2 separate regions of the Homo sapiens genome follow, and region 1 is linked to region 2. The links come from fine-mapping of genetic effects on gene expression. Tissue or cell type: esophagus muscle. Region 2 holds a variant in brackets; the other region holds the start of a gene. All regions are shown on one strand. Distances are from middle to middle.

What was found. PIP is the estimated chance that this variant, and not a neighbour inherited with it, causes the effect.
Region 1: BEX5 starts here. The variant in region 2 is fine-mapped to the expression of BEX5 in esophagus muscle (GTEx, PIP 0.98).

The regions. Positions count from the first base shown.
Region 1 is chrX:102,152,308-102,160,413 of GRCh38, forward strand. It overlaps BEX5 (brain expressed X-linked 5), which reads right to left and starts at 3,670. Exons shown (of 3, transcript NM_001012978.3): 1 at 3,552-3,670; 2 at 2,437-2,503; 3 at 1,405-1,995. The coding sequence starts at 1,958. The coding sequence ends at 1,623. RefSeq lists an enhancer at 3,487-3,626.
Region 2 is chrX:103,012,280-103,020,390 of GRCh38, forward strand. No RefSeq gene overlaps it. Among named protein-coding and RNA genes, the nearest start is that of BEX1, 48 kb to the right of the region's middle. The variant G/T (reference allele first, on the strand shown) is at 4,520.

The DNA of each region.
Region 1 (8,106 bases), 860 kb before region 2:
AAAATTATCCCTACAACTCCTGTGTATGTGCAGAATGAAACCTGTAGCAATGTCTGCACAGAAAATTGATAGTCAAGGAGACTAAGCTATATTCATCAGAGGATGGAAGAGATAGTCCAATTCTGAGCACACTATCATGAGTGTCACTCAAATTTGTCTGGGAGAAGGGGATGAGGAAGGAAGTGGGAGAAAACCATAAAGGGCTGCTTGCATTTATAAGCAGTGTTGGTGAAGTATCTGCCTGGTTTAATTATAACTCTAAAGCAGGGAGGGACACTCTATACATTTTTGAAAAGGCAAAATGGGGATTCGGATTACTGAAGGTTCCAGAGAAATCGGTGGGTCTTTGTCATCTTTAGAAGTCCAGTACATCTGCAGTGGTAGAAGCCAGTGGAGGGAGCAAAACGCAAGAGAAGAGGAAGATGTGCCTAATAGTTATGGTATTATGCAGGAAAGAAAGCCAGAGTAGCAGATGAATAGAAAAGCATTTACAGTTGAGCATCCCTAATCCAAAAATCCAAAATCGAAGTGCTCCAAAATCCAAGGCTTTTTGAACATGACATGATGCTACAAATGGAAAATTCCACACCTGACTTCATATACGCAAACTTTGTTTCACACACAAAATTATTAAAAATATTGTATAAAATTACCTTCAGGCTATGTGTTTGAGGTGTATATAAAATTAAATAAATTTCATGTTTAGAGTTGGGTTTCATCCTCAAGACAGCTCTTTATGTACATGCAAATGCTTCAAAAACAGAAAAAAAACCCCAGAAATCTGAAATCTGAAATGCTAGTCCCAAGCATTTCGGATAATGGATTTTGAACCCGTACTCACCTGGAAATCAACTGGACTTGCTGATAGGCACTCTCCTTGGAATCTTCCCTAAATATGAAGGGCACTTAGAGGGCTGGAGCCTTGCATGTATAAATAGAGCAAGACACAGAGCTCAGTCATCACCTCATTTGATTCCCACAGCAGCCGTCTAAGGCATTTATAATGTAACGTACCTGTAATTATCAGGTACATGTTTCTAAATGAGAGATCCATAGGTAATATAAGATTTATATGTCTTTAAACTGTGTTTCAAGTGTTTATTAATTGCCCCCATTTCCTATATAAGTTGATTGGCAAGTTCCTTGCTTCTTACTTTTTTTTTCCCTGAAACATAGGAAACACATGTATTCATTTTGGAAAAGTGAGAAAAAGTGGATAACCAAGAAAAAAATAAAGAAATTTAAAAGTACCAGTAACTATACAACATAGAAAAAGCACATTCTGGTTTTCATTCATTCATATATATATATATATATATATATATATATATATATATATATTTCATATATATTATATATAGTGTGCATACGTACACATCTAAATGAAATAGTCTATCTGTAGACTGCTTTTAAATTGCTTTATTAACTTTACAGTATGCAATAAACATCTTTCCATGAAAGTTGATGAAAGTCCTCTTCTGACAGAAAAACTTACAGACTAGGTCAAAATGCAATCTCCAATCAGAAAATTGCAGAAGAATGCCAAAAGGTTCACATTAAAGGTACACCAGGAAAAATGCGAATTTAGAAAGCAGGGATTTTATGATTATTAACCTCAAGATTCAAGGCATAAGGCAAAACTCATCATGATGATCATGGTGAGGAGGGTCCCCTATAAGAATGCGCAGACTGTACCTCAACTGAAGTTCCCTAATTTTCCTCCTTAGCTCTCTCATCTCCTCCATGAACCGTTCCATATCATCTCCATCTCCATCTATCATATCAATGTTATCGACAAGCCTATTGGGCACATCCTCTCCAAAACCCGGGGCAGGTGGAGCCCAAACCCCTTTAACATTTCCTCCAGGCTCCTGGTATTCACCACCTCCTAAAGCGGGGGCTTCATTCTGCACTGGGGCCTTCTCCACAACTTTGTTTTCCTTGGGGACATTTTCCATGTTGAGTTTTTTTCCTGTTTTTTTTTTTTTTTTCTTCCTAGAAGATAAAAAGCAAGAAGAGGGAATGAATGCTTGATAGGATTCAGAGCTCTGTTTGGCAAAGGTTTTCCCACCTGAGAAACTTTATGAACCCTGTAGGGGGCGCCCCAGACCCAGCGCTGCCCCAAAGCCCATCATTTTCCCTGAAAATCCCTTCCCCAGGCCACTCCTACCGCCAAAATGCAAGACGACTTAGCGGAGGGGGACGATCATAGAGAGACCAGACTTCACCTCCCTGGGATCCTAATAAGCTCTCCAGGAGCGCCCCAGATCTCGCCCCTCTACTCCCTTCTTCCCTCATCAGATACAGGCTGTCATTTTATGAAGACTCTCCTAAGTTTCTCCTGCACTCAACTCGGGCAGGAAGGGCTGTGAGTCACCCAGATTCTGCTCTGATCCTTGATACCCCTACACCAGAGGGCCCCAGGCAACCTCCTACCTTCAGGGATCAGAGGCAGTCTTTCTCTCTTAGCCTTGAAATCGGCTGCACAAACGCACTTAAAGACCTGCAGACAAATGTGACAATTACCAGGACTGATCTTTTAATCAAAGGACCGGTAATGGGAGTTGATTTAGGGTTCTCCTAGTATTAGCACCTTCTGTTTCTCCTCCATCCTGTCTCACGGCTTCTTTTCCCACCCTGTGACAGGCTATCCCACCTTCCAGAAATAGGCATCAAAGATGATTATTTCCAAAACGTTTTAACCTCTTCTTTAGGCGCCCATCTCTACTGTTTCCTCTTACCTGTCATCTAGTTACCCTTTCTGCAACGCAGGCAACTTGCCTGGCGGGGGAGTTAGAAGAGCTTGCTGAATGAATACGTAGTTTATTCACAAAGAATTTCAATCTAGATATCCATCAGGCCCTCTCTCCACCCGATCCCCACTCCCATGCCCACCATTTTATGCATCAAGATGGACGATGAGTGAAGAGGTATGTGGGCATTGAAAACTAGGACCTGCTGCGGTCTCTGCGCTTTGTCATTCTCACTCCAGGATCTACAGGTAGCGCCCACGCTTACACCGACCGACCTGCTGAGACCAAAAACAGTTTCTCGCTCCTCGCCTCTGTCCCTCAGTCAGAAGCTCGCCCGCTCAACTGCCGCAATAGGGACCTGCTTTCCAGACCTAATCTCTGTCCCCCTCCTCTGCAGCAATTCCTCTCCTCGGCCCCCGCAGCCTATCATTTCCAGCTCTAAATGGGTAGAGGGTGAAGAAAAGATACCTAGAAGGCAGGCCTAAAACCTTGGCAGGGTCCGCCCTCCCCAACCCTTGGTTGCCGGCTGTACCTCCCTCCCGCGGACCTGCAGGAAGCAGGCTGTTTCCTTTCAGTCTCCTCCACCGGCTGGACTCCATCAGACATTGCCCGATGGCCGGCCTCCTAGGAGATCTCAAATGGTACCCATTCTCAATCCAGCCCCCTCGGGAGATCCTCTCCCCAACCGCTCCATTTCTCGCACTAAACGGGTGTGTATCTGGAAAGGGTGTGTATCCAGTCCTAGACCCGCTCTGGTCTTTGCCCTCTGCTGCTCACACACCGGTCAGCGCCACCTACCTGCCAGGGCTCAGGGGTCAGCTTCTACCACTTTCCACCTTTCCTGGGCAGCTGGCTCGCCTGCCTTCAGGGCAACAGCGAGCCGTCACACGGCCAGCGACAACTACCAGACTGCAACTAGGAGGAGGGACTAATCCACGCATTGGCTCTGGGTCTCCTAAGGGTCACGTCACTGTGAGCTCAGATTTCCAATTACCATTCACACCCGCAGTGCGGCAGGAGGGTGGGGGCGGGACTGTGGGCGGGGCCACCTTTCTCTTCATTCGTGCTTTCTCCACCACTACCACAGGCTACTATCCACCCCTCTATTTTTTTATTTAGCGATCCCCACGACCAAACGGGTCATAATATTTTGTATTTGGCTTGCTCTGGTTTCTGCTGGAGCTTTTAAAAAATCGCTTCTTCCTCTTCTATACACCTAAACGCACACTTCTCTCCCCTTCACGTCCAGCAAGTAAAGCCCTAACAGTCTTGTAGGGCTTGGTCCCAGATTGGAACCCGGAGAAGGGGTGGGGAGCGAGAGGCTAGGAAGTCTGGAAAATAGGCAGGAAGTGGTATTCAAATTTTTTTTTCACTTCAACTACTTTCCTTTTTGTTTGTTTATTTGGGAAGGGGGTTCCTTTTATTTTTCATCAGCATGCATTCATTTTGTTGTTGTTTTTATAACTAGACAATACAATTATTTTCAGTTGAAAAAACAGGATTCGAGTTGTAAAAACATGGCAATCTGTTTCTCCTGCTGAATCATATTATAAATATAAACCTTCCAGAAAGCATTCCCCTGCCTCCTTTAAGGACTTTGAAATAAGGCCGGGAGCGGTGGCTCGTGCCTGTGATCCTAGCACTTTGGGAGGCCGAGGTGGGTGGATCACGGGGTCAGTAGTTCAAGACCAGCCTGGCCAAGATGGTGAAACCCCGTCTCTACTAAAAATACAAAAAGTAGCTGGGCGTGGTGGCAGGCGCCTGTAATCCCAGCTACTCGGGAGGCTGAGGCAGGAGAATTGCTTGAACCTGGGCGGCAGAGGTTGTAGTGAGCCGAGGTAGCACCATTGCACACCAAGCCTGGGCGATAGAGTGAGACTCTGTCAAGAAAGAAAGAAGGAAAGAAAGAAAGAAGGAAAGAAAGAAAGAAAGAGAAAGAAAGGAAGAAGAAAAGAAAAGAAAAGAGGAAGGAAAGAAGGAAAGAAGTGATTTTCTCGTGAAGGATCTCTACATGTCCTTCCGTGAAATGATGCATTGAGTCTAATAGAGCCTCTCTGGTGGATTTTCATGTCTTGAGAACCTGTGACAAACTGATGATCTCCTCTAAATTGTATTAGTGTAACCACAATTTACAATAACACCTAGCCCTGATGATTCAGGACAATAATTTGGGGAAGCTACCCTGACAGATGAAAATGTATTGTGATGGACACATAGAGGGGAACAACACTGGGGCCTACAGGAGGGTGGAGGATGGGAGGAGGGAGAGGATCAGTTTACCTATATAACAAAGCTGCACATGTATTCCTGAACTTAAAATAAAAGTTTAAAAAGTATTGTGAAATTACAATGTTAAGATAATAGTGTACCAGAATAAATTTAGAACAAATGAACCAGAAAAGAAATTCAATTATCAAACCCAAATATGGAAAAAATGCTAGTAAATGCATTGAAATATTTTGAATCAGTGGGGAAAGGTTAGATTGAAGAAATTGTATCGGGATAATTGACTATTTTCAAAAACAATGAAGTGCCTTATCATTCTCATACACTTAAAAATAGACACTAAATGTTTGCATAAAAGACATTAAACCATTAAAAATAGAACTTAGCATGTTATTTTTTATATAATAGAATGGAAAAGTTGTTTTAAATACAGCACCAGATCCTGACAAGACCAAAAGGCAACTGGCTCAAATCTGCTGGGGACCCTCCAAGTCTCAGAAATGATTTAGAGTGCTCCTCAGAATTATCCTAACTAGTGATGAGAAGTTGGGGTATTTTTCTACAGACTTGGCCCTCTATTGGTGGATGTCACGCTGAGGATGTTAAAATCTCTGGCACTTTTAAGTTGTCCTACACCTGGGCTGAGCAAGTTCCCAAGGTACCAGAAAAAGCCCTCAGCAAAATTAGAAAACACAGGTAAGGTAGAAGGATAATATCAGTTTTATCCCCGCTACAGGAAATATACTATTCACATTTTACTCTAAATCAGTCCAAATATCTCCCTTCAAAAACAAAGATAATACACACATATTCATTTTCTTCTTCTTCTTCTTCTTCTTCTTCTTCTTCTTCTTCTTCTTCTTCTTCTTATTATTATTATTATTATTATTATTATTATTATTATTATTATACTTTAAGTTCTGGGATACATGCGCAGAATATGCAGGTTTGTTACATAAGTATACATGTGCCATGGAGTGATTTGCCGCACCCATCAACTCATCATCTACATTAGGTATTTCTCCTAATGCTATCCCTTCCCTTGCCCCCCCACCCCCAGACAGGCCCCAGTGTGTGATGTTCCCCTCTCTGTGCCCATATGTTCTCATTGTTCAACTCCCACTTATGAGTGAGAACATGTGGTGTTTGTTTTTCTGTTCCTGTGTTAGTTTGCTGAGAATGATGGTTTCCAGCTTCATCCATGTCCCTGCAAAGGACATGAACTCATCTTTTATATAGCTGCATAGTATTCCATGGTGTATATGTGCCACATTTTCTTTATCCAGTCTATCATTGATGGGCATTGGGTTGGTCCCAAGTCTTTGCTATTGTACACACATATTCATTTTCATATTTATAGATGTTTGGGTTGTTTGTAGTGTTCATTATCATAGATGATGTTGATTGAACTTCTGTGTACATAAAATTTTCATACTAATATCAAATTTTGAAATTTCTAGAACAGTCGTTTCTATATATGTGTGGATATTTTTCAGTGTCATAGAAGTCAATCCTGAAAAATGTCCAAATTTGGTATCTATAATGTATGAGAATTCCTGCTTTTTCATGTCTGCCAATGCTTAATATTGCCTGGCGTATTAATCGTTTTCACACTGCTGATAAAGACATACCTGAAACTGGTCAATTTACAAAAGAAAGAGATTTATTGGACTTACTTTCATGGGGCTGGGGAGGCCTTGCAATCATGGTGGAAGATGAAAGGCAAGGAGAAGCAAGTCACGTCTTACACGGATGGTGGCAGGCAAAGAGAGAGCCTGTGCAGAGAACTCTCGTTTTTAAAACCATCATATCTCATGATTCTCATTCCCTATCATGAGAACAGCGCAGAAGAGACCCACTCCCGTAATTCAATCGCCTCCCACTGGGTTCCACATGGGAATTGTGGGAGTTACAATTCAAGATGAGATTTGGGTGGGGACACAGCCAAACCATATCACCTGGTTTATTTTTTTTAACTATTATTGTATTTTATTTTTTCTTTTGTTTAATTTTTTATTTAAATACACTTCTCAAGGTCACCAGGTAATGTTTTCTAAACTTAACACATCATAAGAAGCACTTGGGGTTAAGATTTTTAGGCTCTTTCTCTAAAGATCCTAGTTTAATAGATTAGAGTCAGGTGTGAAAACCTGCATTTAAGAAGCTCCTTTGACATAATTTTTAATATCAGATAGAGTTGGGAAACCCTGTCACAGTTAAAAAACAAAATGAAACAAAGAAAAAAGATCTCCCATCATTATGTAAGTGATCTTTTTTTAAAAAAATTATTATGAAATAATTTCAAACTTATAGAATGTTTTTGAGAAAAACCCCACATGCCCTTCACTGCATTTCCCAGTTCTCAGTTTTGCTATATTTGCTTTCTCATTCTCCCTTCATATTGAAGAATACATTATTATTTTTTTCTGAACCATTTGAAAATCAATTGAAGACCAAATGGTCATTTAAAAATATTTAGTGCAATTGAGTCCATATTATTATATCATTAATTAATATAAACTGAAAAAACTGAAGTAATCACAAATGGTGGAGCAGCCATACATCAGGAATTTTTAGCTCAGTTAAAAATTTATAAGATAATCTGGCGCCATGAAAATGCACCACTTAGATCTCCTGCTGTGGGAAGTATTGTTGATTGATGGTTCTAGTTGCTGACCCTCTGAATCCACTAGCACATTCATGCTGAGGTCATGAATCCCATGGGCTGATCCTTGCCAATAACTAGCACTATTCAGTTGCATTTCTGTAAGTTACAGGGCTTCTGTAATTGAAGTCTTTGGCTCCACAGCTCCCCTTCAGCCTAGCTGAAACCTTAGGATTATGTGACAGTCTAGGGCTCTTCCTGTCAAATCTTCCTCCTTTCCCTGCTCTCCTTCACCAATGTCAGATCTGCATTACCATCTGAACACTCTCTCCACCTTCTCCCACTCCTTCTCCTTTATCCTTCACAGGTGTTGTCCCCAGTTAAACTCTTGCTCATCTATTCCCATTTGAGTTGTTACTTCTAAGAGGATAAGAGCTAACATAAGTGGTGACAGGAGCTGTCCAAGAAAAATTATGATACAGTGGAGTTTGGGATCTGACTCACTCGCTACCCACTGGGCAA
Region 2 (8,111 bases):
TTTTGGCTGGGCTTATAGTCTTATAACCTTTGTTATAAGTGTTTTATAGATCATTCAGGTCCACAGTTCTCAATCCTGGCTACACATTGGAATCACTAAGAGAGCTTTTTAAATACCCAATATCCAGGTCTGCCCCCTAGAACATTCTGGGATGGAATCCATGCTTTAATATTTAAAATGCTCCCCGGAAACTTCTGTTTCCAGCCATAAGAGAGGACTAGAAACTGGATCTAGCCTTTCATCCAGAAATCTGGACAAAATACAGTGTATGTTAGCATTCAGACGTTAGACAACAGTCATGGCAAGACTGTGAGATCTATTAGAGAAAGGAAATGAAGCAAGTCCTACAATTTCGTCAACTAACTGGTCTAAATTGAGGAAACATTGAAGTTCAGGTAGACCAACGTGGCTAGAATTTGTGGGCAGAGTTCTGGAGAGTTGATAGCTGCAAAGAAAGAGTTGCACAGTATTGCAAAGAGGTCCTTGGGTGTTTTGTTAAGAATTGATCTGAGCATACGTGAAAAAAAAAAATCTAAGATCAGGAAAAGAACCACTAGAAAGCAATAGGATGAACAATTCCCAGAGCTCAAACAGGGCTAGGAATTGTTCTTGTTCATTCCAGCCAGAGTGGAAAACCTTGTAACATAGAAGACATCACCTAGAGTCCCAAGAAGGGTGTCACCTTAGTAATGAAGCTAAAATAGCCCTAAAATAAAAGGTGTTATGGACTCACCCTAAAAAAAAAAAGATAAAAAGCCTTGAAAGGATCCAATTATTTCCAAGTAACTTACTTGGCTCTCACAATAAAACTTTATAGGAGTACATACTCATCTCCCAACAAAGTACAACTCACAATGTCTGGCATCTGACCAAAAACTACCAAGTATGTTCGTGTTCTATTGCTGCCATAAGAAATTACCACAAACTTAGTGGTTTCAATAACACCCGTTTATTATAGTCTCTGTGAGTAAGAAGACTGGGCATCGTATAGCTCTTCTGGGCTCTCTGCTTATGGTCTCAAAAGGTTGAAATCAAGGTGTCAGTTTGCTGCATTCTCATTTGGAACTTGGGATCATCTCCCAAGCTCAACTTCAGTTCCTGAAAGTTGTAGGACTGAGGTCCCCATTTCCTTGTTGGCTGTCAGCTAGGAGCCGTCCACCTTTCTTCTCATAATGCCCCCTCCATCTTCAAACCAGCAGTAGCGCATCAAGTTCTTCTCATACTTCAAATCTCCCTGACTCCCTCTTCTACATCTGCTTTCAAAGACTCTTCCTTTAATGATTACATTGGGCCCACACAGATAAACCAGTATAATTTTCCTATCTTAAGGTCAAATGATTGGTAAACTTTACTAACAACATACCTCGAAGGTCATTGATTGTGAATAAACATGAGCTTATACCATAGGCATAGTAAAGATACTAATGACCAATACAGATAGAGAAAAAATCAAAATGGCCAGTGTATTCTTATTATTCTTATTCTTCCTGTTCCTCAGTTTCTCATCTCATCTGTAAAATGGACATTAGCAGCACTATTTCGCATGTGAGCATTAAAAGACCGAGTACCCAAAAAGCACTTGGAACATAAGAACTTTGCCCAAGACTGCACAATTAGGGAGTGGGACAGCTTGGATTTGTGTCCAGTACATCATGCTACAGAGCTTGGGAAACTCAGAGATTTGTGTTAAGTGAAAGACGCAGTCTATAAGAGCATATACATTTTAGAAAGTCATTATACAGTACTTACTACTTTGTATTTAAATATATTTATATATAAAAATGAACCTAGTGATGAAAAGGTGTATTATGACATAGGTAAGGTGATGTTTATTGCAATCCTGGGGACAGAAGCCATAGTGTAGTGGTATAAATAGTCAGTGGGAAGTGATGAATACTATCAGGGAATGTAGAAAGACACGAGAGAGAGAGAGAGAAAAAATGAATATTGATACTGTGGCTAAAGGGAGGATGAGGAGTCAGGAATAAACTTTTTTGAATCTTCAATTTCTTGAACAAGTTTAAAAATTATATGAAGGAACCATCTCATCTCAAATTTAACCTTTGAAGTCGCCCATATATTCATTGCCTTTCTTATCCTCTTATTTACAATTTAGAGCCCATTAGATGCCTCAAACATAATAGTATGGATTTAGAGATCAATATATAGTTAGTGAATGAAAAAATGGACAAGTGTGTGTCAAGGAAATGCTAGTAACTCTTGAATTTTTGCCTCTCCAGGAGGCAGAGATGGCTGAAATCCTGGTGTGATATTGCTGGATAATGCAAGAGCTGAGGGCCCCTGCCCTGGTGACAGCAAATGGGCCCAGAATTTTCCTATAAATATATTAATATACTGAGCAGTCAAAGAGCAGCCACTAGGCAAACATGACCGACCTCTTGTTTCCCTGGTGCGATCTACCATTGATCTCACTAGGTAAGTTTAAAGACATTCTTCCCATCATGGGGAAGAATGATTTGGGTCTGCTCAGATTCATGATGTTGAATACACCCAAATCAGCTTCTGAAAACACCCCAAATGTAGAGAAATCTCTGTCTCCAAAACTTTGAACTCAAGGCATATCAAAGACATTTGCTTCCTTCCTCTAAATATCTGTATTCTTATTAAAAGGAACAATGAGAAATGACTTTTCACAATGCCTTCTTGGCCCTGAGGCTCAGCCAGCGCCTAATGCTGTGTCTCAGCATTTAAAGGGCCGCTGACGTCTTTTACTCCATGCCATAATCTCTGGACAGGTTTTCTCATTTACACCTGGGGACAGCTCCATAATGATGGTATGGTCAGTCCCATTTCACAGATAACCAAGTTCAGGCTCACAGAGCCTAAGTCACCTTTCCAGGTAAGTGGCAGCATTGGGGTGAGTTTCCATCCCTCACCCTTCCTAGAGGACTCTGAGCAGCCTCCTTTTTAGAAGATGGCTTCCAGGGCTTGAGAAATGGTCAGAGTCCACCCCCTGCTATTGTGACCCCACAAGCATTTACTCAACAACTCTTCTGGGTAATGAAGATGATAGAGGTGAGATCCCATCCTTTGTGCCAAGAAATGTAGGTGTAGGACCACACGAGTTGGCAGATACCTGAAGTTGATGAGTGGGCTCAGGCAGAAGCTCAGGTGTTGGCCTTGGGATGGGTGACCAGGAGAGAAGGAAAGTAACATGCACTGAACCACTGTAAGCTAATGCACTTTATACTTCATCTCCTTTAATTCTAACAGCTATTCAAGATACCCACTGATATGGTTTGGATCTGTGTTCCAGCCCAAATCTCATGTTCAATTGCAACCTCCAGTGTTGGAGGTGGGGCTTAGTGGGAGGTGACTGGATCATGAGGGTGGTTTCTCATGGTTTAACACCATCCTCCTTGTTGTTGTCATGGCGATAGTGAGTTATCATGGATCTGGTTGTTTTAAGGTGTGTGGCACCTTCCCCTTCTCTTTCTCATCCTCCTGCTTCAGCCATGTAAGACAAACCTGGTTCCCCTTAGCCTTCTGCTATGATTGTAAGTTTCCTGAGGTTTCTCCTGAGACCTTCCCAAAAGCTGAGCAGATTGACAGCATCATGATGCAGAACCGTGAGCCAATTAAACCTCTTTTCAATATAAATTACCCATCTCAGGTATTTCTTTATAGCAATGTGAGAAAAGATTAATACACATATCATGATGATTATTTAAATCAGGAAACTAAGGAGAGCTTATGTAAAAGCAGGGAGACAATTTTGTTATCTCCTGATCAGTAGCCAATTCTGGAATTAGAGGTTTTGTTTGTTTTACATTTTGTCCCAATGCCTCCAGAACTCTGGATGTTCTAATCTCCTTCAACCCTGATAGTACATGTGCTCTAATGAAGTGTTCAAGAATTTTTCTTTTAAATTACTACCTGTACATATTTTCATCATATTATTGAACTTTTAGAACACATTCTAAATGAAAATAATACTAGTGATTATACTGAAACAGGGGAGAAAACATTCACTAACTACATATCAGATATAGCGTTAACATCCATGATTTCTGAAGAACACTTGCTAACAAAATGGTTAGTAACCAATTTCAACAGATAATTCAAATAAATATATATGTGAAACGCAAACATGTTAAATATGCTAAAATCATAAGAACTAATAAGATTATTAGTTATCACTAATAACAATATTAAGTGAAAAAGGATAGTTGCAATAGAAGCTGAATACTGTGATTTCACTTTTGGAGCAGACTGTGTGTGTAGGTGAACGTGTTTATGTGCACCTCACCTGCAGGGACACATCTGGAGAGTATGCACCATTCTATGGAAACAGACCCCTTGGGAGTCAGGGGATAGAAGTAGGGCCAGTGAGAGGTGCAGATTAATTTTGATTTATGAATATATGTTTGTAAATTGTTTGAAATCGGTGTTCAGGAAAAAAAGTATTTTGATAAAAATTTGAAAACAAAAAATACTTGTGAACAGAATGACTAATGTAATGTGCACATATATTCATTAATTTGAAAAAGCATTCATT[G/T]TATTCCATTTTTGGTGAAAGACGTAGAGTTTTAAAACTGAATTGACAGTGTAGTGTGTGTGTGTGTGTGTGTGTGTGTGTCTGTCTGTCTTCTCTAGCTCTATCACCTCGAATACACACTCACAGTTTCAATTTTACCTTCAATTCAGACAGAGGCTGGAACCGATCTCAGTTTTAGATAGCCCTAGAAATGAGAGATACAGAGAGATGGCTACCATTAGGAGAATAATTCCAGAAAACGCTGGCTGATTACCATTAAGTCAAGATCCCAACCTTCATCCCTCCCTACTCCTTGCTGACTCCCCTGATCTGACTCCCAGAGCTTCAATCCTGGCTCTGGTCACCAGGCGCGATGCTTCTCCAGTTTGCTCTTTATCATCTTGTAATGGTGTGTGTACTAAGATAGCAATTCTTTTTGGAAAATTAACATGTATATTAAAGCCTTTCCCTTTGCTGTTGGCACCAAATCTATATCACATTCATTCATTTATCTCTTCCCTCCTCAGCGTAGGTTGAGATGTCTACACTTTAGGAGGGTCCCTCCCAGAGAACAGGGCACTCACCCTCCATTATCCCACCCTTGTACAGGCTTCCCAGACCTTCTGCTGCCCCCTCTCAGTGATCCCCTCTCCAGGACACAAGGGACACAGCCGCCCAGACCCCACTCTGTCACCCCCATCCTCTGCCAGTCACCTCCTGCTACCCTGCACTGCCCTTTGCCTGTTGGAGACTACCAAGGTGCACTAAAGCTGCCTGGTGTTTCATGGTATGGATGTCCCAGAGTACATGCTTTTACAGTCTTATTTACACCTATCTGGGTTTTTTTCTGACAGAATTATAATTGCTCTGTACTTCAGTTCATAAACTGGGTTTTAAGGGAGGTTATCTTTTTTTACACTTCATTGTAGAGAAGTTTGATAATACTGGTACGTTGATGTCGCCTTGTGACAGAAGCCTGAACTGCAGTTTAAACATCGCTGAGCAGAAAGGTGGAGGGGTTGTAACCCAAGCCCACCCTACAGAGCTTTCTGGAAGTCTTCGTGAAAAGGAGGTCATTCCAAGTATATAAGGATACTGAGCATCTTCCAACAGAAACTGCAACCTATTAGGGTGCTGAAGAGAAAGCTTTATGTGAGAGAAAAAGAGTATTTTAATTTATATTCTTTGAGACCTGTGGATAAATATCTATAGACGTGTATACGCACAAATGGATCCAAGCCACTTAGGACTTTGTAACCTGATTTTGCCTTTATTATGACAATTATTGTATGTAAATACATTTCTATCATCACATTTTAAATTATTTTACAACTTTTTAAAATATCAACCAGGTGTTTCATTATACAGAGGCCCCCAAACTTATTTCATTAGTATCCCAGAGATAAAAATTTAGTTTATATTTTTACGACAAACAATAGTACACTTAACATCCTTGCTCATATATATGCAAAAACTTTGTAAGCACTTCTTTATAAGTTTCTAAAAATAATTTTCAGGTTTTTTTCTTCAACTTTTGTTTTAATTTCACGGGTACATGTGCCAAATGTATAGGTTTGTTACATAGGTAAACGTGCGCCATGGTGGTTTTGCTGCACAGATCATGCCATCACCTAGGTATTAAGCCCAGCATCCTTTAGCTATTCTTCCTGATGTTCTCCCTCCCCCTCCCGACAGGCCCCAGTGTGTGTTCTCCCACCACTGTGTGTCCACGTGTTCTCATCATTCAGCTCCTACTTATAAGTGAGAACATGTTTGGTTTTCTGTTCCTGCGTTAGTTTGCTGAGGATAATGGCTTTGGTTTGTCAGAATTTTATTTAGGATTTTTGCATAGATGTTCATAGGGATGTTGGCCTGAAGTTTTCTTTTTTTTGTTTTATTTCTGCCAGGTTTTGGTATCAGGATGATGCTGGCCTCATAGAATGAGTTAGGGAGGAGTCTCTCCTTTTCAATTGTTTGGAGTAGTCTCAGAAGAAATGGTACCAGCTCTTCTTTGTGTTTCTGGTAGAATTCAGCTGTGAATCTGTCTGGTCCCAGACTTTTTTTTTTTAATTTGTAGGCTGTTTATTGCTGCCTCGATTTCAGAACTCGTTAATGGTCTCGTCAGTGATTCAACTTCTTCCTGGTTCAGTCTTGGGAGGTTGTATGTGTCTAGGAGTTTCTCCATTTCTTCTAGATTTTCTAGTTTTAAGTGCATAGAGGTATTTATTGTATTATCTGATGGTTGTTTGTATTTCTGTGGGGTCAGTGGTGGTATTTCCCTTATTATTTCTGATTGTGTTTGTTTGATTCTTCTCTCTTTTCTTCTTTATTTGCCTATCTAGCAGTCTATTTTACTTTTTTCACAAAACCAGCTGCAGATTCATTGATTTTTTGAAGGCTTGTTTGTTTGTTTGTTTGTTTGTTTTTGGATTTTTTTTTTTTGTCTCTACCTCCTTCAGTTCAGCTCTGATCTTGGTTATGTCTTGCCTTCTGCTAGCTTTGGGTTTTGTTTTGTTTTGTTTTGTTTTTTTCTCTTGGTTCTCTCGTTCTTTTAGTTGAGATGTTAGGTTGTTAACTTGAGATATTTCTAGCTTTTCGACGTGGGCATTTAGTGCTATAAAATTCCCTCTTAACACTGTTTTAGCTGTGTCTCAGAGATTCTGGTACATTGTCCTTTTATTCTCATTAGTTTCAAAGAACTTTTTGATTTCTGCCTTAATTTCATTATTTACCCAAGAGTCATTCAGTAGCAGGTTGTTCAACTTCCATGTGGTTGTGTGGTTTTGAGTGAATTTCTTAATCTTGAGTTCTAATTTAATTGTGCTATGGTCTGAGACACTGTTTATTAGGATTTCAGTTCTTTTACATTTGCTGAAGAATGTTTTACTTCCAATTACGTGATCAATTTTAGAGTAAATACCATGTGACAATGAGAAGAATATATATTCTGTTGATTTGGGGTGAAGAGTTCTATAGATATCTATCAGGTCCACTTGATCCAGAGCTGAGTTCAGGTCCTGAATATCTTTGTTAATTTTCTGTCTCAATGATCAGTCTAATATTGACAGTGGGGTGTTAAAGTCTCACACTCTTGCTGTGGTGGAAGATAAGTCTCTGTAGATCTCTAAGAACTTGCTTTATGAATCTGGGTGCTCCTGTATTAGATGCATATATATTTAGGATAATTAGCTCTTCTTGTTGAATTGAACCCTTTGCCATTATGTAATACCCTTCTTTGTCTTTTTTGATCTTTGTTGGTTTAAAGTCTGTTTTTATTTTTTATGTTTGTTTGTTTGTTTTTTCAGAAAGTAGGATTGCAACCCCTGCTTTTTTCTGCTTTCCATTTGCTTGGTAAATTTTCCTCCATCCCTTTATTTTGAGCCTATGTGTGTCTTTGCACATGAGATGGGTCTCTTGAAGACAGTATACTGAGGGGTCTTGGCTCTTTACCCGCCCTGCCTTTCTGTGTCTTTTAATTGGGGCATTTAGCCTGTTTACATTTAAGGTTAGCATTGTTATATGTGAATTTGATCCTGTCATCATAATGCTAGGTGGTCATTTTGCAGACTTATTTATGTAGTTGCTTCATAGTGTCACTGGTCTGTGTACTTTA